Linked DNA regions of Homo sapiens. The protein of the gene in region 7 purifies or fractionates together with the protein of the main gene of each other region. This does not show direct contact. Each region holds a gene or a part of one and is shown on either strand. Other genes may lie near its edges.

Evidence for each region.
Region 1: the proteins of CLN3 (region 7) and SLC25A3 purify together in Homo sapiens (affinity purification with mass spectrometry, with the first as the bait; one large-scale study listed by BioGRID). This does not show direct contact.
Region 2: the proteins of CLN3 (region 7) and SLC25A22 purify together in Homo sapiens (affinity purification with mass spectrometry; 2 studies listed by BioGRID and IntAct, with this or other methods). This does not show direct contact.
Region 3: the proteins of CLN3 (region 7) and SFXN3 purify together in Homo sapiens (affinity purification with mass spectrometry, with the first as the bait; one large-scale study listed by BioGRID). This does not show direct contact.
Region 4: the proteins of CLN3 (region 7) and NUP205 purify together in Homo sapiens (affinity purification with mass spectrometry; 2 studies listed by BioGRID and IntAct, with this or other methods). This does not show direct contact.
Region 5: the proteins of CLN3 (region 7) and TMEM33 purify together in Homo sapiens (affinity purification with mass spectrometry, with the first as the bait; one large-scale study listed by BioGRID). This does not show direct contact.
Region 6: the proteins of CLN3 (region 7) and ENPP4 fractionate together in Homo sapiens (co-fractionation; one large-scale study listed by BioGRID). This does not show direct contact.

Annotation. Positions count from the first base shown.
Region 1 is NC_000012.12:98,600,186-98,603,685, reverse strand, and holds part of SLC25A3 (solute carrier family 25 member 3 isoform b precursor), read right to left. Parts: intron 2,516-3,500; coding exon 2,405-2,515; intron 2,319-2,404; coding exon 2,158-2,318; 3' UTR 1-2,157. UniProt on the Homo sapiens protein: Inorganic ion transporter that transports phosphate or copper ions across the mitochondrial inner membrane into the matrix compartment. Mediates proton-coupled symport of phosphate ions necessary for mitochondrial oxidative phosphorylation of ADP to ATP.
Region 2 is NC_000011.10:792,629-795,281, forward strand, and holds part of SLC25A22 (mitochondrial glutamate carrier 1), read right to left. Parts: exon of another isoform or gene 2,636-2,653; intron 2,542-2,635; 5' UTR 2,379-2,541; coding exon 2,359-2,378; intron 2,274-2,358; coding exon 2,148-2,273; intron 1,961-2,147; coding exon of another isoform or gene 1,886-1,960; coding exon 1,830-1,885; exon of another isoform or gene 1,825-1,829; intron 992-1,824; coding exon 901-991; intron 361-900; coding exon 242-360; intron 139-241; coding exon of another isoform or gene 100-138; coding exon 1-99. UniProt on the Homo sapiens protein: Mitochondrial glutamate/H(+) symporter. Responsible for the transport of glutamate from the cytosol into the mitochondrial matrix with the concomitant import of a proton. Plays a role in the control of glucose-stimulated insulin secretion.
Region 3 is NC_000010.11:101,034,234-101,037,733, reverse strand, and holds part of SFXN3 (sideroflexin-3), read right to left. Parts: intron 3,043-3,500; coding exon of another isoform or gene 3,040-3,042; coding exon 2,879-3,039; intron 2,238-2,878; coding exon 2,067-2,237; intron 1,791-2,066; coding exon of another isoform or gene 1,732-1,790; coding exon 1,633-1,731; intron 1,249-1,632; coding exon 1,173-1,248; intron 1,068-1,172; exon of another isoform or gene 1,012-1,067; coding exon 926-1,011; intron 659-925; coding exon 531-658; intron 353-530; coding exon 303-352; coding exon of another isoform or gene 1-302. UniProt on the Homo sapiens protein: Mitochondrial serine transporter that mediates transport of serine into mitochondria, an important step of the one-carbon metabolism pathway.
Region 4 is NC_000007.14:135,620,417-135,623,916, forward strand, and holds part of NUP205 (nuclear pore complex protein Nup205), read left to right. Parts: intron 1-2,360; coding exon 2,361-2,509; intron 2,510-3,500. UniProt on the Homo sapiens protein: Plays a role in the nuclear pore complex (NPC) assembly and/or maintenance. May anchor NUP62 and other nucleoporins, but not NUP153 and TPR, to the NPC.
Region 5 is NC_000004.12:41,941,929-41,945,428, forward strand, and holds part of TMEM33 (transmembrane protein 33), read left to right. Parts: intron 1-1,818; coding exon 1,819-1,886; intron 1,887-2,864; coding exon 2,865-2,998; intron 2,999-3,500. UniProt on the Homo sapiens protein: Acts as a regulator of the tubular endoplasmic reticulum (ER) network by modulating intracellular calcium homeostasis. Mechanistically, stimulates PKD2 calcium-dependent activity. Suppresses the RTN3/4-induced formation of the ER tubules.
Region 6 is NC_000006.12:46,136,489-46,139,988, reverse strand, and holds part of ENPP4 (bis(5'-adenosyl)-triphosphatase ENPP4 precursor), read right to left. Parts: intron 439-3,500; 5' UTR 406-438; coding exon 1-405. UniProt on the Homo sapiens protein: Hydrolyzes extracellular Ap3A into AMP and ADP, and Ap4A into AMP and ATP. Ap3A and Ap4A are diadenosine polyphosphates thought to induce proliferation of vascular smooth muscle cells.
Region 7 is NC_000016.10:28,476,779-28,479,426, forward strand, and holds the end of CLN3 (battenin), read right to left. Parts: intron 1,100-2,648; coding exon 959-1,099; intron 858-958; coding exon 738-857; 3' UTR 501-737; downstream 1-500.

The DNA.
Region 1 (3,500 bases), on a different chromosome or scaffold from region 7:
CACAAATAAAACCTATTATAACTCTTAGGAAATAAAACTTGAATCCTGATTGGCAGAACTGCCTCAGTAAGGGCTGGCTGAACTGCATACCCAAAATGTTTTAGATCTACGGTCCACTTTCACGTTGGCTGGACTAATGCGTTTCTACTGCTCCTCTTACACGTTGACTGACTTTCCTCTCAGGAAGAGGTAGAGACTATGTTCCTTTTTTCCTCAATCTGGGACTTGGTTTCTGAGACATCACTGTTGTAACCAAGAGCATGGTAAAAGTGATGTTATGTGACATTGAAGGATAAGTCCTAAAAAGCCAACTCTGCCAAGCTCTCCTGGAGCCCCAAAATACCACCTAAGTCCAGCTGCCCTGAAGCCACCATGCTAGAGATTTTCGGGAAAGACTATACCACTAATAGTGAAAAGCACAAAGAGCATCCTTTCAGCTCAGAAGTGAAAAGCTTCATGAGACTCAGAACCAGAAGAGTCTGATACTCCCGAGTTCTTCACCCACAGAAAAGCTTATCATACACCATTGATCTTTGGATGCTTTGCTAACATAGCAAGAAATAATATACAGTTGATACTGCTAAGCACCACAGCCACCACTTGGTTGGGTTCAGAAGACATCCTACTTTACCTTTTTAAAGTTTGGTCCAAATTTGTACCTACAACTTTTCCTTTTTTCCTGCAGCACAGGTAAAATGTTGGAACCTTTAACAAGTTCAGGCAATGATGATATAAAGAAGTTAACATGCAACTAGCTGCACTGGCTTCTAAATTGAGTTCACTGACCTTACCATGAGTTTGTAGTAACATTTCTCTCCAATCTCTGAAAAAGTTTTTCTCTCCAGGCCATCTGTACGCTTTACGTAGGGACTGTTAACCAACCCACGTATTACACATAAGGACTCTAGGTAAAATCTAGTGTTTGAAAAACAGCATGTTATATATTACACTAGGTTTTTCGTTTTTTTTCCAGTGGTGGGCTGTCATTACAAAAGATTGAACTTTTATACACTTCCTAATCAAACTTAAGGGGAATCTAAACACAAAAACTAATTCACTTTCTAGGAGCTCTTTAAAAATGGGCTTAAACCTACAATCCAATCTCGTATCTAAGTATGATGGAATGCTTTTTCCCCAGTGGCATTCATATAGTTCAGCTGTCAAGCAGTACCTTTCTTAAAATACCAGACTGAAAATAGTTCAATTTTCTGTAAAAAGTCAGAGCCGGGCACGGTGGCTCATGCCTATAATCCCAGCAGTTTGGGAGGCTGAGGCGGGCGGATCACCTGAGGTTGGAAGTTCGAGACCAGCCTGACCAACACAGGGAAACCCCGTCTCTACTAAAAATACAAAATTAGCTGGGCGTGGTGGCACATGCCTGAAATCCCAGCTACTTGGGAGGCTGAGGCAGAACAATCGCTTGAACCTGGGAGGCAGAGGTTGCCGTGAGGCGAGATCGCGACACTACACTCGTCTGGGCAACAAGAGTGAAACTCCGTCTCAAAAAAAAAAAAAGTCAGATCTGTGTAAAGAGAATTAGTGTACCTGAAAATTGTTTTCAGCTGTCAATCACTTTGGTCCTTTACTGTCATTCTAAGAATCAGCCTAATTTGGTTTACCTTGTCTTACAAATAAGGATTAGCAAACTCACCAACATAAAAAAGGTGTAGTACATGCTGCAAAAATGTAAGTATACACTGACATTTACTTGCCAAAATAACCACAAATGACTACACATATTTAACTATAATTAAATCAAGTTTTTAGAAATTTAAAGTCTGCTTCCCTAGAAATACAGGAACTTTGTGTGATAAAACTTGAGACATATGACAATTTCTGAATAGCAACTGGAATATTCAACCAACAATGGTCATGGTCAGTTTTGTATTTTTTCCTTAACTTATATACTTCATTCTTTCCAACTATTTTAAAGCTAAATCTTTTTTAAAAAAGTTTTAAAAATAAGTCACAGGCAAATCATGAAGAGTTGGGTTTATTTCAACAGTAAATCTGAAACTCTTGCCTTAAGCAAGAGTACTACAGTAATTATATCAGGAATAGACAATTTCCTACACTGTCAAATATATAAAAGTTCCTTTTGCACTTTCTTCAACACTGATCAACAAGCAGATTCAGTCCACATTTGCTTTGATCTAACTACTGAGTTAACCCAAGCTTCTTCTTCAGAGACTCTGGCATCTCGGGTGGAGGAGGGCGAGGAAGTCTGAAGTAGACCTTCACGGAGTCATAGATAAACCACTGTAGTGCAGTCAGGGTACCAATCATGATGATACGGGCAAACAGTCCCTTCCATACACCTGGTTCAAACAGGAAAAGCAAATGAAAAAAATGCAACATATCCAAAACTGTTGTTCTTTCTTTCAAGAAAAAAACATCATCCTACCTTTAAATCCAAGTCTCTTGAGGACCAGAGAAGCACTGCTACCTTTTTCTTTATTCAACACAGATACCACAGAATCAGCAGGGTGAGAAACAATTGCACAAAAGACTCCAGCTGAAAAAAGATAAAGGATCCCATACAGTGCCAGTTAAAAACAAAACTTCACAGAGCCAATAATCATTTTTATGATTTTAAAATAATATTTTTCTAGTTCTAAAATAAAAATCAGACTCAGGGTGACACGGGTACAGTTATCAAGCTGTCTATCCTATGTAAAACGGAACAATCTTTTAAAGTTTTTCAGATTTTATTCAACACTTTCTGTATAAAATTCTTAATAAACAACAACAAAAAAATGGTGCAACAGTAAGATCAATACATTCCCAAGCCTAATAATGACATCCCATGAAACAGCCCTTTTAGGAACTAGTTAGCAAGTATTTATGAATCCTAAAAAGCATATAAAATGTTATGGGAAGATAAAACTGCTTTATAGGCCAGGCACATCACCTGAGGTCAGGAGTTTGAGACCAGACTCATCAACATGGTGAAACCCCATCTTTACAAAAATCAGGCCAGGCGCGGTGGCTCACGCCTGTAATCCCAGCACTTTGGGAGGCCAAGGCAGGCAGATCACCTGGGGCCAGGAGTTTGAGACCAGCCTGGCCAACATAGTGAAACCGTCTCTACTAAAAATACTAAAAATTAGCCGGGCGTAGTGGCAGACGCCTGCAATCCCAGCTACTCAGGAGGCTGAGACAGGAGAATCGCTTGAACCCAGGAGGCGGAGGCTGCAGTGAGCCAAGATTGCACCACTGCACTCCAGCCTGGGCAACAAGGGTAAAACTCCATCTCAAAAAAAAACAAAAAACAAAAACAAAAATCAGCCGGGCATGGCGGTGCATGCCCGTCCCAGCTACTTGGGAGGCTGCGGCAGAAGAATCACTTGAACCCAGGAGGAGGAGGTTGCAGTGAGCTATTATCATGCCACTGCACTCCAGCCTGGGCAACAGAGCGAGACTATGCCTCAGGGAAACCAAAAAAACAAAAACACTGCTTTATAACCTTTGGAGTATTTTTCCCTCTCAAAAAACGCCAA
Region 2 (2,653 bases), on a different chromosome or scaffold from region 7:
TGGCCGTGGGCCGAGGGGCAGCTGGAGCCTCCACTGAGGGCTGGGCACCCCCCTGGGCCGAGAGCTGGCCCTGGGCAGCCAGGATCTTCCTCTGGGCGGCTGGGGACAAAGAGGCTGCTGTCTCCTCTTCTGTGCGAACTGGGCAGGGGACACGCTCTGGCCCTCCCTGCGTCCCCACCCTCCCCTCGCCCTCACCTCTTCCCGCACCTCTGCCCTCTCCTCCCCCTCCCCCCGCCCTCACCAATGCGCCCTGCATCCTGCAGCTGGATCTTCAGCATCTCCATGGGCGTGGTCACGATCACCTGGCAGGTGCCAGCCCCACAGCCCGCCAGCATCTCTTTAAGCAGGGTCAGCTTCTGCCTGTGGTAGGGGCGGGGCCGCAGTAAGTGGGAAGAGACAGGTCTACCTGCCACCCTCGGGGCTGCCCACCATGCCTGGGCGCAGAGGATGGTGGGAGCCGTGGAGGCAGATGCAGGCCTGTGGGGGTACAGCCCCCAGCCTCCGCCACTGCAGCAGCAGGCAGGGAGGAGACCGATGGACAGACGGCCCCACAGGCAGGGGCCTGGGGAGGGCAGTGGGGCTGTCTGCGACAAAGGAAAATGGGAAATTGGGGGTCAAGTGCCCCAAAAAGGGGCTGCCCTTGCAGTCCCCCTCCAGTGATGGGGGAGCTGGTCAGTGCCCTCAGGCCAAGGGCTACCAAGCCAGAGCCCCACTGATTTGACATCTGCTTTGCTCCCCTGGTCAGGGGAAAGGAGGGAGGGTGCCCCACGAGGTCAAAGAAGCCCCAAGCAAGGGGCTGAAGACAGGCAGAGCCCCCAGGTGGGACCCAGCTGGCAGGGTGGACCCATCCTTTATCTGAAGCCAAAGACCCCTCGAGTGTCTGCCAGGCAGAACCCTCACCCGTCCTTAGAGAGCTGATGTCGGAAGAAGTCGTTGGCTGCCAGCTTGATGGCCTTCTCGGGGGTGACGAGGGTCAAGTTCACAGCAGCTCCTGTGGGGCAGGGGGTCAGCTGGGGGGACATGCTCGGTGGCCTGAGTGGGGAGGCGCTTGGCCAGGACTTGCCTCCTGGCTGGCAAAACCCTGTCCCAGTCACTCCTGGCCACCATCTGTTCTCTCACCCACATTTGGGCCTGGTGTGTGCCAGGTGGGGCGGGGCCAGGCAGGGATGGGGCAGCACCTCAGGCTCAGGCTCTCCCATGCCCACTGCAGCTCCATCTGTCTCTGATTCTGGGCAGCATCTTGCTGCTCAGGGCATGAGGACTGCCCCGGAGCCCCTGAGGCCTCCCTAGGATACCTCTCCCTCCCTGGAGGACAGATGGTGCTTGTGCTGGCAGGGGGCTGGGGCCAGAGGTCACAGGAGTGTGTGGTCTGGACTGGGCCAGAGCTCGGGGGAGGCTGTGGAGAGCCCCCATCTCAGTGCCGAAGGCTCAGGGCTGGAGAGCTTCTGCCAAATCTAGGCTCTGGATTGTGTCCTAAGCTGCTTTGCGGTAATGCCCCTTACTCCCTCCCATCCCCAGCCACAAACGGGGTCCAGCCTGGCCCAGAAGGCAGAGGCAGCTGTGGCCACCAGAGAAGAGACAGATGTACCATGGCATCCCACGCACCAGGCACTAAGTGGGGGTGGGGAGCTGCCACGGGAGAGGCTGAGAACTACCACTCACCAGAGATCCAGTCCCCCCTGCACAGGCACAGCCCCCACAAACACGTCCACGCTCACACACCAGGCCCAGGCTGGCCGCCCTGCCCTGCCTCCCCCACCGCTCCCTGCCACGACTCGCGGGCGCTACCCAGGCCTGCCCATATCGAGCCCAGCCGAGCCAAACCTCACCCCGGTACATGCCGAAGTAGCCCTCGGAGCGGACGGTCTTGATGAGGCAGTCGGACCTGTGGCCAAGGGGACAGGGTGAGCCAGGGCCAGCTGGGGCCAGCCGGAGGCCAGGGTCCCTGGACTGTCTAGGGCTGATAGAAGAGGCCAAGTCCTCAGCCCAGCCCCGACCCCAGTCCTGACCCACGTGGGATCTCCCCTAGGCCCGCCTGCCTCCCGTTTCCCTTCTGTCAAACAGGGTGGGGGGCACAGGAGCAGAGCCCCCACCTCTCCTGCTGCCACATGCTGGGCCCACTCCCCGCGACCGCCCGGCACACTCACATGCTCGTGTACACGCGCTGGCCGTTCTGCTGGTTCTGCAGCCTGGTCTTGGCCAGGTCGATGGGAAACACGCAGGTGACACCGATCAGCCCGGCGATGCCGCCATTGATGAGCTTGGCTGGCAGGCTGTGTGGACAGGGGTGTCAGGACCGGCTTCCTTGACCATGGGTCAGGGTGGGGGTGAGGCACGCAGCCAGGACTGGAGTCTGACCTGATCTGCTTATCAGCCATTTAACTCGATTGCACCCAGGTAGGAGCCGCAGAGGTGGACGCCAGGCCAGGCGGGGTGGAGGTGGAGGTGGAGGAGGCCTTGAGGGAGGGTGGGACCCAGGGGGGTTGGGTGGTGCTCCACCTTCAGGGGAATTTCCAGGCGTCAGCAACCGCCACTTCTGTCCTAGAAGGATGAGGGAATGGGAATGAGTGAGGGTGGGGCCACCCGAAGAGTAATCCTCCCCCAGCCTCCCTCTCTCACGCAGCCCCTCACCCACCACCCCAGACTGAAGCCG
Region 3 (3,500 bases), on a different chromosome or scaffold from region 7:
AAAAGAATGAGCATGAGATCAAGCATGACTATGACAGTCCCCTTCTGTGTGTCAGAAGCCACTGGAGTAACACTGATGAAGTTGGTTTCCTTCCTTTGTCCTCTCCTCCTGCCCCTGCAGAGTTCCTTCACCCCAGCCCAGTTCATTCTTGCTGAATGAACGAAGGTGGAGGAGGCGGTGCAGGGGTCAGGAGAAGGGCTGGCAAGTCTTAGAGAATCAGGCGAGGCTGGAGAGAGAGTTGGGGCCTGGTCACTTCTCCCAGCCATCGCCCATTCCAGGACAAGAGAGGTACAGTCGCCTACCTTCAGGAAGTCTTTCTTCTCCAGAGTGTCCATGATCAGTGGTGGGATGGCTGTGGGGAGAGCAGGGCCAAGAAGGAGAACATTAGTAGTGGAGTTAAAGTCAGGAACTGTGAAGGGTGACCCCCCTCAAAGCTCCTCCCTCTCTCCCCAGAGTCCTCCAAAGTCCCTGAGAACTGCACCTGCTTCTCTCAGAGTCTCCTATGCCCCACCCAGCCACTCCCGCCTTACCCATGGCAGGAATCGCCATGCAGATTCTTGAAATCACCACCTGGAAGATTCCCTGCTTGGCTGCAGTCACCGAGTAGCCAAGCCTCTGACCTGCCTCATCAGCCACCGGGATGCCCACCTGCAGCTCTCTGCAAGGGAGGGGGGTTGGGGTCAGATCACAGGCCCCGGATCCCACCTGCAATGCCCGAATGAGCAGCGGCTCCTCAGGGTCCCCTCACACACCCCAGGCTCAAAGGCTGGTTCTCCCACCTGAGGATCCCAGGGTCAGACTGAGCCAGGGCCCAGCAGCTCATGTCTGGGGAGGGAGAGGGATGTCCCCATTCTGAGGTGGTCTGCGTGGATGGACAGTGTGCTACATTCTGGGCATGCACATGCCAGGAGCCGGGGTCACTCACCTCTGCCTCATCAGGGGGATGTTGATGCAGTTGGCAGCTGCCACTGCTGCAAAGGGCACAAATCTGCCGACCAAGGGGGGCAGGTGCTGGGGAGGAAGGGTGTTGTTCAGTGGCCCTAAGGGCCATGGGGTGGTGAGGGACTCTGGGGAGATATAGGGGGCATATAGGTCAGAACTGGAGGTGTGATGAGGAAGAAGGAGGCAGATAGAGGATGAATGGGGTGGTCAGGGGAGTGAGGGGCCTTTACCTTGGTGAGGGATTTGAGTCCCAGGGCCGTGGCCACAGCTCCAGTGGTGGCACTCACATAGGCTGTCCCCAGCTGCCTGTGGGTGGAAAAGCCAGGTCACGGGGAGAGGTGACAAGTCCAGCAGGTGGCCCTTTCCTTTAGGGATATGCCAAGTCCTCAATACATGAGGCATAAAAGGGGAAGCTCCTTGCAGAAGAAGCCTTCCCTCCATCTCCGGCGTAAACTTGTCTAGAAGCCCCAGTAGCACCCTGTGAAGAGGGGTGGGTCCCCCACAGCATACATAAGAGGACCTCATGCCTTCAGTTAGGCAGGGTAATTCGGGGTGGGGCAGGCTGAGGAGAGGGCGCTGAGCACTGGCTGCATGGTCCACAGGGAACCGGAGAGAAAGGAGAGGGCACTGCAGGCTGGGAGGAGAGGGTCAGATGGGACAGTGCAGCTGCTGCTGGGGGCTGGCTCTCACCTCACAGTGATGGGAGTGTCACCACTGCGGTTGGAGTAGTTAACAATGGCATTGAAGGACTGATTCACCCACTGCCAGAACACCACGGTTGGGGTCTTCCTGAGGGAACAAAGACACTCACTTCTGCCCCGTCTACAGTGGCCCTCATCTTTAGACCCCTGTAATGAAACCAAAGGTTATTCCCCAAGCCTAAGAAGGGACCCAGTTAATGGCCCTAGAACCTGTTCTGGTAACCCCTATGTACCCCCACCCCCATTTATACAAACACACCTACTGTCTCTGGGGTGAGAGACCTCCTGAGGCTGAATTCTGAGGAATGGAAGCGATTCTGACACAATCTTTCACTCACCCAGTTGGCCCAGACAAGAAGCGCACCTAGTCAAGCTATGCTCTAGCTTAGGGCACTGAAGAAGGGGACGTGGGACAAGACCTGCCTGTAGAATGTGAGCATGCAGCCAGTGATGGTCATGTTCATGGGCACCTGGGCTGACATGCGGCCAATCAGGACCACCTTCTCCCCTGTGTCCGGATGGAAGGCGGAGTCATACACATACTTGGCCCTCCACAGCTGGTCCTCGGTGATCCCTGGGGTCACCACGCCGGCCCTGCAGAAGTTGGCAAGGAGCAGACAGGCTATGCCAGGGGGCAGATCTGCCCTCACAGGCCCCACCTGCCCAGCTCAGGGTAACTCTGGACAGAGAACCAGGAACTTCAGCCCCCAGTCTCAGCATAAGGAAGCTCCTTATCTTTGGGAGAGGGCCAAAGTTTCCCAGAAGTGGAGGCTCCTATTTCTATTTCCCTTATAGCCACACAAAGAGGGGTACCCTTCTGTTTCTGCCAAAATGCTGGGTCAGGGATGATGGTGGTTTCCAGTGGGTCAAAAATGGCTGCAAGCATTGCAAGAGTTTTTCCTCCCAAAGATAAGGGGATTTCCCTCCTATCTTCCTGGGACTCCACTTTGAGCACCTCTATCCTTGCAGAGGGTGACCCCGCAATGGGATAGATCCCTGTAGAGGTTTGTGATGCATAGAGCAGCCCCTCCCATAAATATCAATGCCATCTTCTCAACCCAAATGCCCTAAAATCCTTTGGGTTAAAGCTCTGTGATGCCAACAGACGGGGCTAGAGAGTGAGGGGATTGAGGGACAGGGTCACTGTCAAGCTTGAGGAGGCAGGTACAAAACATATTATATTAATCACAGAAAATGAGATCCTGGCACACAGGGTCAGATTGAGGGGTGGTCACCTGTAGTTCTGCACGATGTTCCGAGAAGCTTCCAGCTGTGCCCCGGACAGCAGCAGATTTCGAGGATCAGTAACAGTGAAAAAGTGCCGGGCTCTGCCCAGGAAAGTACTTTGGTCCCAGCGAGGTTCCTGGATGTTGATGTCTAAAGGCAATTCACCCATTTTCTGCAGGACAGAGATAAGGGTCAGAGCGGGAGTCCAAGGGTCCAAGGGCTCCAGCTAGGGGAAATCTTTGGTGCCCCTGCCCTGGCCCCTGAGCTTATCATCAGTCCCTTCAAGAGCTCAAGGTGACTAGATGTAGGGAAAAGAAAGAGAGATCAGACTGTTACTGTGTCTATGTAGAAAGGAAAGACATAAGAGACTCCATTTTGAAAAAGACCTGTACTTTAAACAATTGCTTTGCTGAGATGTTGTTAATTTGTAGCTTTGCCCCAGCCACTTTGCCCCAGCACTTTGACCCAATCTGGAGCTCACAAAAACATGTGTTGTATAAAATCAAGGTTTAAGGGATCTAGGGATGTGCAGGACGTGCCTTGTTAACAAAATGTTTACAAGCAGTATACTTGGTAAAAGTCATTGCCATTCTCTAGTCTCAATAAACCAGGGGCACAATTAACTGCGGA
Region 4 (3,500 bases), on a different chromosome or scaffold from region 7:
CAGCTACTCAGGAGGCTGAAGCAGGAGAATCGCTTGAACCCAGGAGGCAGAGGTTTCCCAGATTGCGCCACTGCCCTCCAGCCTGGGCAACAAGAGTGAAACTCTGTCTCAAAAAGAAACACAAAAGTCTTTGTTATTCCATGATATGGATGAAACACTTATCTGCCATTTTCCTTATTCACAGGCATTTCAATTGTTTCTAAATTTTTATTACAAAAATGCTACATCAACTTTTTTTATATGCCTATATTTCTCAAAAAGGATACTGCTTAATGGTGGAATTTCCATGTGTAAAAGTATGTACTTTTATTTTAAAAAGATTCAAATGAATGACCTTCTCCAGTATAAACTCATCAATAGTATACATGTATCTTTTTGTACTAGTGAGGTTTTGTTTGGATAAATTCCAAGAAGTGGAATTTCTTGGTCAAAAGTTAGGCACATTTAAAATATTGCTAAATGCTGCTTTCTAAAAAGTTAGCATTTTTAATTGAAACTAATCTTAAGACATGAAAATGTTATTAAGTGTTCAACACATCAGTATATAATGCTTTATATACTTTATAGACATTTGATGTTCAATCAAGTTATTCAGAGTTATTCTGCCATTTGTTAAGAAGTTGTCAGAGCACCTTCTGATAATGGATTTTCTTTGGGCTCTTCACCTTTGTGAGTGTTATTTTGTATACACTGTTAAAAACCACTGTGTACGTAAGGTTGACTTGATCTCATTATCCTTATGGTGGTTGTATTTTATGCCATACATAGTACCCTATAAGGTAGTAATAGCCAAATGGTAGATTTATAGGCATGTAGCACCCACATAAATAATGCATGAGAATATTTGTAAGATGAGGAAAAATAACAGAATAGTTTAGAGAAGTTTTTTAAGCAAACATGAGCTTCTTTTAAGAAAAGAGATAGTAATGGGATTTCTCCACTCAGCACCTCCCACATTTTTCTTTTGTGTGTGTGTTTTTCTTAACATTCCATTTAGTTGAATTGGCCAAGTCACCACTTAACCACTAGGTGGGGCTCTACAATAGGCTTTTTATAAGAAGTCATCAAGATGCCAATTTAAAAACTGCTGCTATGTAGCAGTTGGAAAAAATGAGATTAGTTTCCAATACAAGTTATTGCTTTATTTAATGTACTTGTGAAATTTTTAAAGAGTCTCACATAAGAGTATGTTTGTGGGTCTTACATAAAATGTATGATCATACTGTTCCTAATCATTGTATAATGGTTGTGCTTTTATTTTTATAATAGGTGTGCTTTTATTTTTAATAAGTATTTCAACTAAAAAAAAGAATAAAAATATCTGATTTTTTTGGAGGCAAATTTTTGTCTACATTGTACCTGATCCTTTCTAGCTAAATTTTCTTTTCTTTTCTTTTGTTTTTTGAGACAGAGCTTCACTCTGTAGCCCAAGCTGGAGTACAGCGGTGCGATCTCAGCTCACTGCAACCTCCACCTCCTGGGTTCAAGTGATTCTCCTGCCTCAGCCTCCCCAGTAACTGGGATTATAGGTGTGCACCACCACGCCCCACTAATTTTTTGTATTTTTAGTAGAGACGGGGTTTCACCATGTTGGCCAGGCTGGTTTTGAACTCCTGTCCTCAAGTGATCCACCGCCTCGGCCTCCCAAAGTGCTAGGATTACAGGTGTGAGCCACCACGCCTGGCAATTTTAAAAGATCTCAATAAAAGATAAAAGATTGATTAGCGGCTGGGCACGGTGGCTCACACCTGTAATCCCAGCACTTTGGGAGGCCAAGGCAGGCAGATCACGAGGTCAGGAGATCAAGACCATCCTGGCCAACATGATGAAACCCCATCTGTACTAAAAATACAAAAATTAGCTGGGCATGGTGGCATGCACCTGTAGTCCCAGCTACTGGGGAGGCTGAGGCAGGAGAATCGCTTGAACCTGGGAGGTGGAGGCTGCAGTGAGCCAAGATCATGCCACTGCACTCCAGCCTGGAGACAGAGCCAGGCTCTGTCTCAAAAAAAAAAAGAAGGAAAAAAAAAAAGACTGATGAGCAGGATAAATACAGGACGTTGGTTCTCATGGAGTCTTGTAATTCATTTTGATCTCTTTCAGAATGATTTATCCTTTTCCAGGTACAATTATTATCTTAGTGTTATGAAACATGCATGAAATAGGTGCATTGTGTTATTAGAGTTAACCTGCTTGGACCCACCGGTCAGTGGGCCTTTGTGTACAAGCAGTGATGGAAGGATTTTTTTGTTGCGTTTTTTTTTTTTCTTCCTTAGCTCATACCTAGCATGTGAGGTATAATTACTCAGTTATTACACTGCTTTTTACTGGAGTGTTTTTTTCTGTTTTAATCCTTTTAGCCAAGAAAACCATGTGGGAAAGGCTGACAGCCCCTGAAGATGTATTTAGCAAATTACAGCGAGAAAACATAGCCATTATTGAAAGTTATGGCGCCGCCCTCATGGAAGTGGTCTGTCGAGATGCTTGTGATGGTCATGAGATTGGAAGGGTAAAGCAACTCTTATTTAGTATTATAATTGAATAAGTATTTTGACTTATTAAGGTATAAACTGATTCACGGCTGGGTGTGGTGCCTCATGCCTGTAATCTCAGTGCTTTCGAAGGCCAAGGTGGGTGGATTTCTTGAGTATAGGAGTTTGAGACTAGCCTGGGCAACATGGTGAAACCCCGTCTCTACAAAAAATACAAAAAATTAGCCAGCCATGGTGGCATGCACCTGTAGTCCCAGTTACTTGGGAGGCTGAGGTGGGAAAATTGCATGAGCCCAGGAGGCAGAGGTTGCTTGCGGTGAGCTGTGATCGAGGCACTTCACTCCAGCCTGGGCTGCAGAGTGAGACCCTGCTGCAAAAAATAAAATAAAATAAATTGATTCAACTTTTAATAATGTATGGTACATATTAAGAATCATTTTTTATAATATACTGTATTTTCTTATTTGCTATAATTTGAGACTTCTGTTTTATTTATTCATATGTTGTGTTTAATTTTGTTAGAATCTTAATTCAGAATTGCCTTTCAGAATTATCTTCTTGCTAATTTTGAGGTTGACTGGTAGAAACAACAGAAACGCTGCTTAATAAAGATCTTTGGTTAAGAGAATGCTGAATAAATTGCCTTGTACTGAATAGATCTTTGTCTGCCTAATTGCTTTGTGGAGAATTTGTATTTATATTTCTTGTACAGTATGGTGGCACACTGGTAATGATGCAGTGAGAAGATAACTTCTTCTTAATGGAAAATTATGTAGCAAAATTATGTAGCAATTAAATCATGTTTTTGAAGACCATAGGAAATAGGATTTTAAAAAATAAACTGGCATAACCTTTTAGTTACGTTTCTTTGTTTGTTTGTTTGTTTGTTTTTGAGATGGAGTCTCGCTCTGTCGCCCCGGCTAGAGTGTAGTGGCGCAATCTCGGCTCACTGCAAGCTCCGCCTCCCGAGTTCACGCCATTCTCCTGCCTCAGCCTCCCAAGTAGCTG
Region 5 (3,500 bases), on a different chromosome or scaffold from region 7:
CTTACCAAGGATTTGTGAACTATAGAATGTTAGACATAAAAGACTCATTGGCAGTTTCTAGCTTTGATCTCTGCATACTCATTTGCCAGAGCATGAAACTTGACCTAGGAAAATTAGGTTAGTGACAGAGTCAGGAGTGGAACTCAGGTATCTTGACTCCCAATTCAGGGCTCTATTTTCACTACCTGACACTGCCCCTTTTATTGAATTCAGTCTGGATATGTGTCAAAGTTTAAATTGAATTCTTTAAGGATCGACAGAGTTTTATAGTGACTTTTGGAGAGGGTTGTAGCTTCCATCAGTTTCAAAGTAGTCTATGATTCATTAAAAAATTTAAAACTTTTTATATACATATATGATCTCTACTTAGGAAATGGACATTTTTCTTAATTCTTGTTAGAGGTGGGAATGAGTTGGTCAGGATATTAATTTGGAGAACTATATTAGGGAGTTAGGGTTCTTCTAATACTTGGATATAGGTTGGTGTCTTGCTTGTCAATTGGAAACTGGGACCCTTGAATTCCTAAATGAGTTATGGTTATAATGAATTTGATACTCAGATTATGTTACAGCAATCACTATTTCCTGTCATATTAGGCCTTCAGTTAGTATAGAAAAATACAATGGTTCATTTCTTAGGAACTGGTAATATTTTTAGGACAAGTATTTTTGCCATTTGTGATTGACTAACAGTCTATATCATTTTGTGGAACTACTTGACAATTTTTTTTTTTTAATCAACCTGGCAGAAATTGGGGTGGAGAATGGGGTCTTTTGAACAATTTCCATTTTTCAAAAAGTTGAATGAAAAATGTATGTTTATCCATGGCATAAAGCCAAACAGTTGGACTCAAAAGGATTCTTTCCTTATGTCTGTAATTAAGCTGATGAGAGTTTCAATTGACTATATACAAAGCAAAATACATACTGCCTTGTTAATTTTTACAAATTGAGAGCATAACTGTGACAACTTGTTAGGTATAGTATCTCAAAATAATGGAGTCCTTGTAGGAAAGAAGTAATAAAAGATCTTTAGTCTTTGGGACTAAAAATTTGGGAATTACTCTTTAAACTGTTACCTTAGACTCTTTCCTCAGCGTTTGAGATTGTGAAAGCACTGTAAAACTACTGTGTTTGAAGGCTAAGTTAGAGTGACCAAGAAAGCCGTTGTAGGGTTAGAAGCTATACTTACAACCCTTTGGGGTGGCCTAGATTTCAGTTTAATTTAGCAAGTGTTTACATTGTTACCCAGTAGAAATGAAGGAAAAACCTTTTTTTCACTATTAATTTTTGTCATGAAAAGAACTGTGAATTGGCCGGGCGCAGTGACTCACACCTGTAATCCCAGCACTTTGGGAGGCCGAGGTGGGCATATCACCTGTGGTAAGGAGTTCGAGACCAGCCTGGCCAACATGGTGAAAACCCATCTCTACTAAAAATACAAAAATTAGCTGGGCGTGGTGGCAGGCGCCTATAATCCCAGCTACTCGGGAGGCTGAGGCAGGAGAATCACTTGAACCCAGGAGGTGGAGGTTGCAGTGAGCCAAGATTACGCCATTGCACTCCAGCCTGGGGGAGAAGAGTGAGACTTTGTCTCAAAAAAAAAAAAGAACTGTGAATTTTAGAAAATGAAATAGTTTACTTTCTTCTTTATAGTGAACAAAATTTGATTTGGCTTAAAGTGTATCAGTAAAACAAGCCATTCCACTGAACTCATTTTAGCAGATGTTTCACATCTGTATATTTGGACATAATACATAGTCTGTTTTGCAGAATACTTGATGACTTTTAAATGTTTTCCTTAATTGTTTTCTTTAGTGAGTATCTTCCCAGTCTTGTTATTCTCTTTGCTTCATGCTGCCACATATACGAAAAAGGTCCTTGACGTAAGTAAAACTGCTCTTTGTCTGACTTCTGAATTACAGATCATTGACATGAATTTGAGTTCTAAGACATTTTGGTATTTGTCACAAAAAGTCCCTCTATACCTTACAAACTTGTTATGAATTATTTAGTGATTTGAAAGTTTTAAGTTTAAAAGTGTTTATTGTTGAAGTTTCACAAACTAGAACATTTTATAGATAAAGGATTGCACTTAAAATCACCCCCCAGTCTCCAGGGGAATTTTTCAAGTTTGAAATAGATCAGTTTTTTTGAAACCTGTGTCTCTAAAGTTTGTTGAGTTGTCAGATCTCTTGTTCTGTCAGTGTTTAATTCTGGCATACCTGATAAGTTGAGTGTACTGAATGAATCTCTTGTACACTAATTTTCAGAACTGCTGCTTTCCTGAAATTCTTTCTTATTGCTAGGTTGGAGCATTAAACCTAACTTGGCACCAGGCCATTTACAGCATATACTGAAATTTGAATTAAAATATCCAGGCACATTTACCAAGCACATTTACAGAAATTTGAATTAAAATAGCCAGATTTATGCTTTGTATTGGCCTTTTTCTTTATCCCTATAATTCTTTGGTCACAGCAGTAATTACACTGCTGTATAATTCTAACATTAGCTAAGAAAGGAGTCACAGATATTTTAACTGTATTACTGGATAGTCAGATTTTGTTGTGGTTAGAGAGAAATAACCACTATTTTTTGTTAAATAATCATTCTTGAGAAAAAGCAGCTAAGAATGAAAAGTACTTTTACTAAAGTTGTTTTTTATATTAAGTCTAAAAATGTAAAAAAGCAGGAAAATATACTATATTTGTCCTTAAATAGTTTGTGAACTTCGTACCATCATTTCCAAAGTAGTATATTTGGTTGTATTGCCTGTTGGATAGGCTGTTTACCTACAGAAAGAAAATATTGTTATCAGAAATGCTTCACTTATTTCTAATGTTGGTTTTCTTTTGTTTTAGGCAAGGGGCTCAAATAGTTTACCTCTGCTGAGATCTGTCTTGGACAAATTAAGTGCTAATCAACAAAATATTCTGAAATTCATTGCTTGCAATGAAATATTCCTGATGCCTGCGACAGTTTTTATGCTTTTTAGGTAAGGAAAAATTATATTTGTTTTGGGAGGCTGATGACTGAACGTAATAAAGATAGTAACTCAAGTTTTATTCTGTTTAAATCTGTTGAAGGTAGGTATTGACATGTAGAGCTAAATGAATCTTAGCAGTTGCCTAATCTAACCTTTGTCATTTATAGTAGAGAACTTGAAATATAGTAGACCTAGGAATTTGTCTTATTCCTTGTGATTTATCATTTGACATTTTAAAAATTACTTTCATAGTTACCACCTTTGAAAGAATCTTATGAAATCTAATCTAGTCCAGTCTGTCACTATTGAGATGATGTTTCTTACACTAGAGAAAAACTTTTAAAATTATGTTCTTATATTAATAGTGCCTACTATCACCTTATTTTGTTTGTATCTTAATTATAGAAGTAATACATGAATAAAGAAAGCCATCCTTTTAAAAGTATGAACATTAAAATAGTATTGACCTCTGCATTGAAATTTTTGCATTACATTTTAAAACAATACACCT
Region 6 (3,500 bases), on a different chromosome or scaffold from region 7:
CATAGCAGCAGCACTTGATCTGTTTTCCTGAAGCTGATTGGTCACCCAAATAGGTACTGCCTCATTCCACCAAAAAGGATCCTTGTCATTAGAGTCAGAAAAGTGTTTCTTTGTGACTGCATCATACATGGAATTAGCCACAATGCCATGGCTTTCTTCATACAAGCCTGTCACAATACTGTAGTGGTTTGGAAATGTTTTTGTGATAAAAACATTTTTAACATGCTCTACCAAAACACCTTCTTTGATAAAATTCTGGAGATGAGGAAATTCATAGTTCTTCAGATAATCAGCTCTGAAGCCATCAAAGGATACTAGTAGTAACTTAGGTGGCAAACTAGAGGAAGAGTCACTTCTAAAACCAGTTATAAGTCCAGAAAACAAAAGTATTACTAATAACTTCATAATGAACACGTTGAAGGACAGCAATCAGGGTTCCTAAAATGTAAAAACACAACTCATAAGTAGTAATTCTATTTCATTTGGGTTAAGTTTTAGAATTTTAGCCCACAGGAGGAGAGAACCAACATTTATATGCCAGCTTTACCTATATTAACTTAAATAATACCATTTATTTAAAAATAACTAAAAGCTAAAATTGGAAAAAAAATTGTCTTGTCCAATTTCCTATTTATATATATGCCCTACTCTATCCTTCATATGGGCCATTTTTATACTCCACATCAATACTCCTTCTAGGCTGTCAGCTCATTTGCCACATTAGAAATTCTTCGAAAGGCTTAATAAAAATAGATGCAGACACTAAAATGATTCTTTTGTAAAACATAACGTTAATGCCAAGCTTTCAGAGGCTCCAGAGATGATGATTATTTTTCCAGTTTAATAAATTGTACTTTATAGTTTCTTTAACCCACAGAAATAATTGGTGGAAATTCTACCATATTGGTTTATTGCCAGTTCTTGTTGAAAATATTGCTATAAAAAAGGGGGAATAAGAAATAAATGCTATTGAGAAAAAAGCCCCCATCAGTCTGTATGTGCCCCAATAGTCACATGAAGTTGATTAACAAACATGCAAAGCCTACATGGACATGGATGCTCCAGTAACTTATGAAGAAATCCAATAGCTATTGAAATGAGTTTTATTACCACATCCCTCTTAAACTTCCTTTTAGCTATCAACAACTATTTTCACTAATACCCTAGGCTTAAAGCTATCTCTGATTTTTTGTTCTTTCTTTAAATCAATTCACTGATGACAAAAACAGCTTTTCCCTAATAAATCTCCCTGCCTTTGCTCTCTATCTTCTTTGGTCTCTAAGAAAATAGGACATGTGAGTGAGGTAAAATGATTCACTTCAGATGGACAGGATGCCTCTTCCATTGTAACAGGAGAGAAGGAGCAAAGGTAGGGGAGCTGACAGATTTGAGGGCTGGAGGTGAAGAGAGTTGCCGGAGGTAGGGTCAATTATTGACAGGGAGTAGAATGGTAAAAGGTTCAGAGGTTTGAGGAACAGAAAGAATGTCTGAAATAGTTAATGTGGAAGATGGGAGAAAGTGTGAGTAAACAGTAGAACTGGAGTCAATGTTGACAGCTGTCATGAATTTTCATAGTGACACAGTTGACTGGTTTTCTCTAGCAACTCAGTAAACCTGGCACAGGCATGAACAAAACAGGCAGCTGATCCTACCTGGATTTGAGATTCTGCCAGAAACTGAAGGAAGACAAAGGAAGCTGAAGATGCTAACTAAAGAGCAGCTGAAATTGGGGCTGCAGCATCTAAGCTGAAACTGACAGATGTAAGTAAGAAGTAGAGAAGTTTTTCAACTAGAGGTTCTGGTGAAGTCAAAGAACTAATGAAGATTAGTTAAGAGTAACTTTTAGTGAAAGTTACAAAGATCTGGGATTGCAGTTAGAATGCAACAAGTGAATGCATTATTTCAGACTAAGAAGACCCTGAACATGGTAACGGGTATGCATGTTGAGGTCCCAGGTATGAAGAGCAGCAAGTTAACTAATATGATTATGAAGTTCAGGAGTCATTTATTGTGTATTCTCTCAAGTAGACTGGAAACACTTTCTCTCTTTCTTTCAAACATGCCACCTGGAGGATCTGCGTACTTGTGGTCAAATACTGACAGAGGCTGTGATCCTCTGAAAAACTGACTTAAAATTAGGAAGACCAAAGGCACAGAATCTGATTTATGAGGATCTTGGGGTCTACAAAATCTCTACTATTTTAATCGGAGACAGGTTGCCTTCTGAATGTGGTGCATGGAACATTTGTTCCTGGTGCTCCCTAATAACCAAAACTAATGCAGAGTAACAAAACCACCTCTCCAAAAGACAGAGTAACAAACCTAATGAGTGGTAGAGGAGGCATATGGGTATTTCCACAGACACAGCCCTAGTCATAGCACAGCAATTTCAGCTATCAAGAATCTAGACAATGGTACTTACCCGTTCATTCAATATTTTATGCCCTCAACACAGTGTTTATGTATGACTTAACTCCTCCCTCAGAGAGTTTTAACTGGGTTCAATCAGATGACAGTATCATGTGGGTTGCTACAATTTTAGAACTTGTGTCAAGGGCATGCAGGTCTCCATGAAAGCTTGGATTGAGTAGATTCCCTGGTTTCTCTCTGGGTATAGTTCCCCATATCCAAATATTTCTTTCCAATCACAGAGTAGACTTTTAAATCAGCAAATACGGCGGCACAGTATCTTCTCACAGGGAAAACATACTCATAAACTTAATTTTTGAAAAACACTATTTACTGCTCTGGCTCTTTCCCTGTGTAACTATTTTATATTCCCAACCAATCCTATCCCACTGCACAGCTGTTCTGCTGCCAAATCCAATCTGATATGTGTCAGATGGAATGCATTCTCTATACCTCCAAATCTTTTCCCCCTTCCTTAGTTCCCAACCCTTTAAAACAGCTTCGCCATTCTCTCAGTAACAAAGAGATCCCCTGAGTATATGATCAGTTGCCAGTCTAGTCAATTCTATCTTCGTATCATCTAATACAGCATATCAGACAAAAGAATCACTGAAGGGAGCTTGTTAAAAGTGCAGCTGTCAAGTCACTATAACTAGGAGATTCTGATTCAGTCAGTCCACAGTAGAGGCCAGAAACCTGCATTTGAAACAAGCATTTTTAACAGCTACCCACTCATCCATCTCTACTACTGCTATATTTTTTAGTCCTCAATACCTCTTGTCCAGAGCACTTTTGTCTCTTAATTCACCTTTCTACCTCAACCACCTTCCACTTTCTTACCTCACACCTGCTGCCTACTCAGTCTCTCTGGGCACAGCTCTGTTCATGTTCCCTTAATTTAAAATATATTCAAAAGGCCCCCCTGCCTATACAAAAAGCCCAAATGCCTCAGTCTCACATTGAAGCCCCTCCAATATCCAGGTCCAACTTGCATGCAAATTACTGTGAAATAAATACAGAAATAACTGCCAACTTGAATTTCCATTCACCATACTTCATTGCCATGGTCTTTCTGAAATGTATTACAACAA
Region 7 (2,648 bases):
AACATGATTGTTTACAGATTGTCCCAAACAATGAATGCATGAATGAATGAATACGTAAGGCCTCAAAGATGGCAGAGGCCAGGTACAGTGGCTCACACCTGTAATCTCAGCACTTTGGGAGGCCAAGGTGGGCGGATCACCTGAGGTCATGAGTTTGAGACCAGCCTGGCCAACATGGCAAAATGTCGTCTGTACTAAAAATATAAAAATTAGCCAGACATGGTAGTGACCACCTGTAATCCCAGCTACTCGGGAGGCTGAGGCAGGAGAATTGCTTGAACCGGGAAGTGGAGGTTGCAGTGAGCCAAGATCACGCCATTGCACTCCAGCCTAGGTGACAGAGTGAGACTCTGTCAAAACAAACAAACAAACAAACAAACAAACAAAAAAGGGAGAAATCTGCTGACATACCTTCTTTATGCTGTCTATATATAGGAAAGTGGGCATGTATTACTTTCATAATAAAAGTTTCTTTTTAGAGACAAAAACGATATAAGAAGTCCATGGATAAAATCGGCATTTATTCAGAAGGCATGATGCCAGGAAGAAACTCCCCAAGTGGGAGACAATGGCTGGCCCCCCTGCAAGGGAAACAAGGCTTCAGCCCTTCCCTACTCCCAGACCTGCCGGGAAGGCTGGGAGCACAGTTCATGGAGGGTCTCTGGGGTGGGCCTGGGTGTCTGACCTGTCCCTCTGCCCACAGGTGAATGTGACCTGCGTCCTGAGGATCCCGAGTATCAGGAGAGCTGGCAGAGGAAGTCATGCAGAGGCAAAGCCAGGAGCCCCGACAGGGAGATCCCCAGTGTGTCAGAGATGCAGGTGGCCGCCATTGCAAACTCCCGGTGCTCATCACTGGTCTGGGAGGGCAGAGAGCAGGGGTGAGGCTTCAGTCCCAGACATCCCTGCCCTGGGTGTCCCTGGACAGGCCACCCCCAGCCCTTGCCCGGCCAATGCTGACCTCCAGGGCGATGTTGTGGAAGGTGTTCACGTAGGCTGCGCCTCCCAGGAGCCCCTCATACAGAATGATCAGGAAGACGAGGTAGATGCTTGGCAGAAAGCCGAACCACACGTCTGCCAGCAGGAACACCAGGTTGAGGCACTGTGAACAGGGGGAGAGGCTAAGCCTGGGACCAGGGCGGGGCAGGGAAGGAGAGGTGGCCTCCCCTCCAGGGGTCCCTGGTTTTAGGAGTTACTGGTGAAGGAGAGGGCTGCCAGGTCTAGATAAAATCTCAACACCAGCCCGGTGTGGTGGCTCACACCTGTAATCCCAGCACTTTGGGAGGCTGAGGTGGGCAGATCACCTGAGGTCAGGATTTCGAGACCAGCCTGGCCTGGTCTCTACTAAACATGGTAAAACCCCATCTCAACTAAAAATACAAAAATTATCTGGGTGTAGTGGTTCTGTAGTCCCAGCTACTTGGAAGGCTGAGGCAGGAGAATCACTTGAACCTGGGAGGCAGAGGCTGCAGTGAGCCAAGATCGCAGCACTGCACTCCAGCCTGGGCAACAGAGAGAGACTCCATCCCAAAAAAAAAAAAAAAAAATTCTCAACCTCAGCCTGGTGCAGTGGCTCATGCAGGTAATACCAGCACATTGGGAGACCAAGGTGGGATGATCACTTGAGGCCAGGAGTTCGAGACCAGCCTGGGCAACATAACAAAACTCCGTCTCTACAAAAAATTTAAAAATTAGTTGAGCATGGTGGCACGCACCTGCAGTCCCAGCTACTCGGGAGTCTGAGACAGGAGGATTGCTTGAACCTAGGAGGTGGAGGCTGCAGTAAGCTATGATTGTGCCACTGCACTCCAGCCTGGGTGACAGAGCAAGATCCTGTCTCATAAAAAAAAAAAAAAAAAAAAAAAAAAAAATGGAGGCTTCTTAAAGGAAGTGGGACCATCGAAACCAGGATTTCTCAATTGCAGCACTCTTGGCGTTTGGTGCTGGTTGTTCTGCATGGTGAGGGCTGTCCTGTATATGGCAGCGCATTTAGCAGGATCCCTGGCCTCTGCCCGCTAGATGCCCATAGCATCCCTCAGTTGTGACAACCAAAGCATGCCTGCAGACGTTGCCAAACATCCGCTGGGCAGCAAAATTGCCCCTATTGGAAAAACCGTTGGTTCACTATGGTAAAACAAGGTGGGAGTAGCCGGGCATCCTATTCAGCTGGGCTCGAACTCCTGGTCTCAAGCAGTCGCTGCCCCCCTGCCTCAGCCTCCCAAAGTGCTGGGATTATAGGCAGGAGCCACCGCACCTGGCCAGGAAGCCTCTTCGATCCCCACCCCAGGGTGTAGGTCCCACCTCTGTGCCCCAGTCTCTCAAGGAGGTGCCATCCTCCCAGCACTGACCACGCCACATTGCCTCTTGTGCAGTGTGTAGGCCTCCTCGTGGCGGTTCATACTTTTCGTATATGTAAGAATTGCCTGGGGATCTAGGTACAAATGCCCCAAGCGGGGCTTACCCTAGAGGTCCTAATTCATTAAATCTGAGGTAGACTTAAAGATGAGCATTAAAAAGGACACACCTCTAGCCAGGTGTGGTGGCTCACACCTGTAATCCCAGCACTTTGGAAGGCCAAGGCGGGTGGATCACCTGAGGTCAGGAGTTCAAGACCAGCCTGGCCAACATGGCGAAACCCCATCTCTACTAAA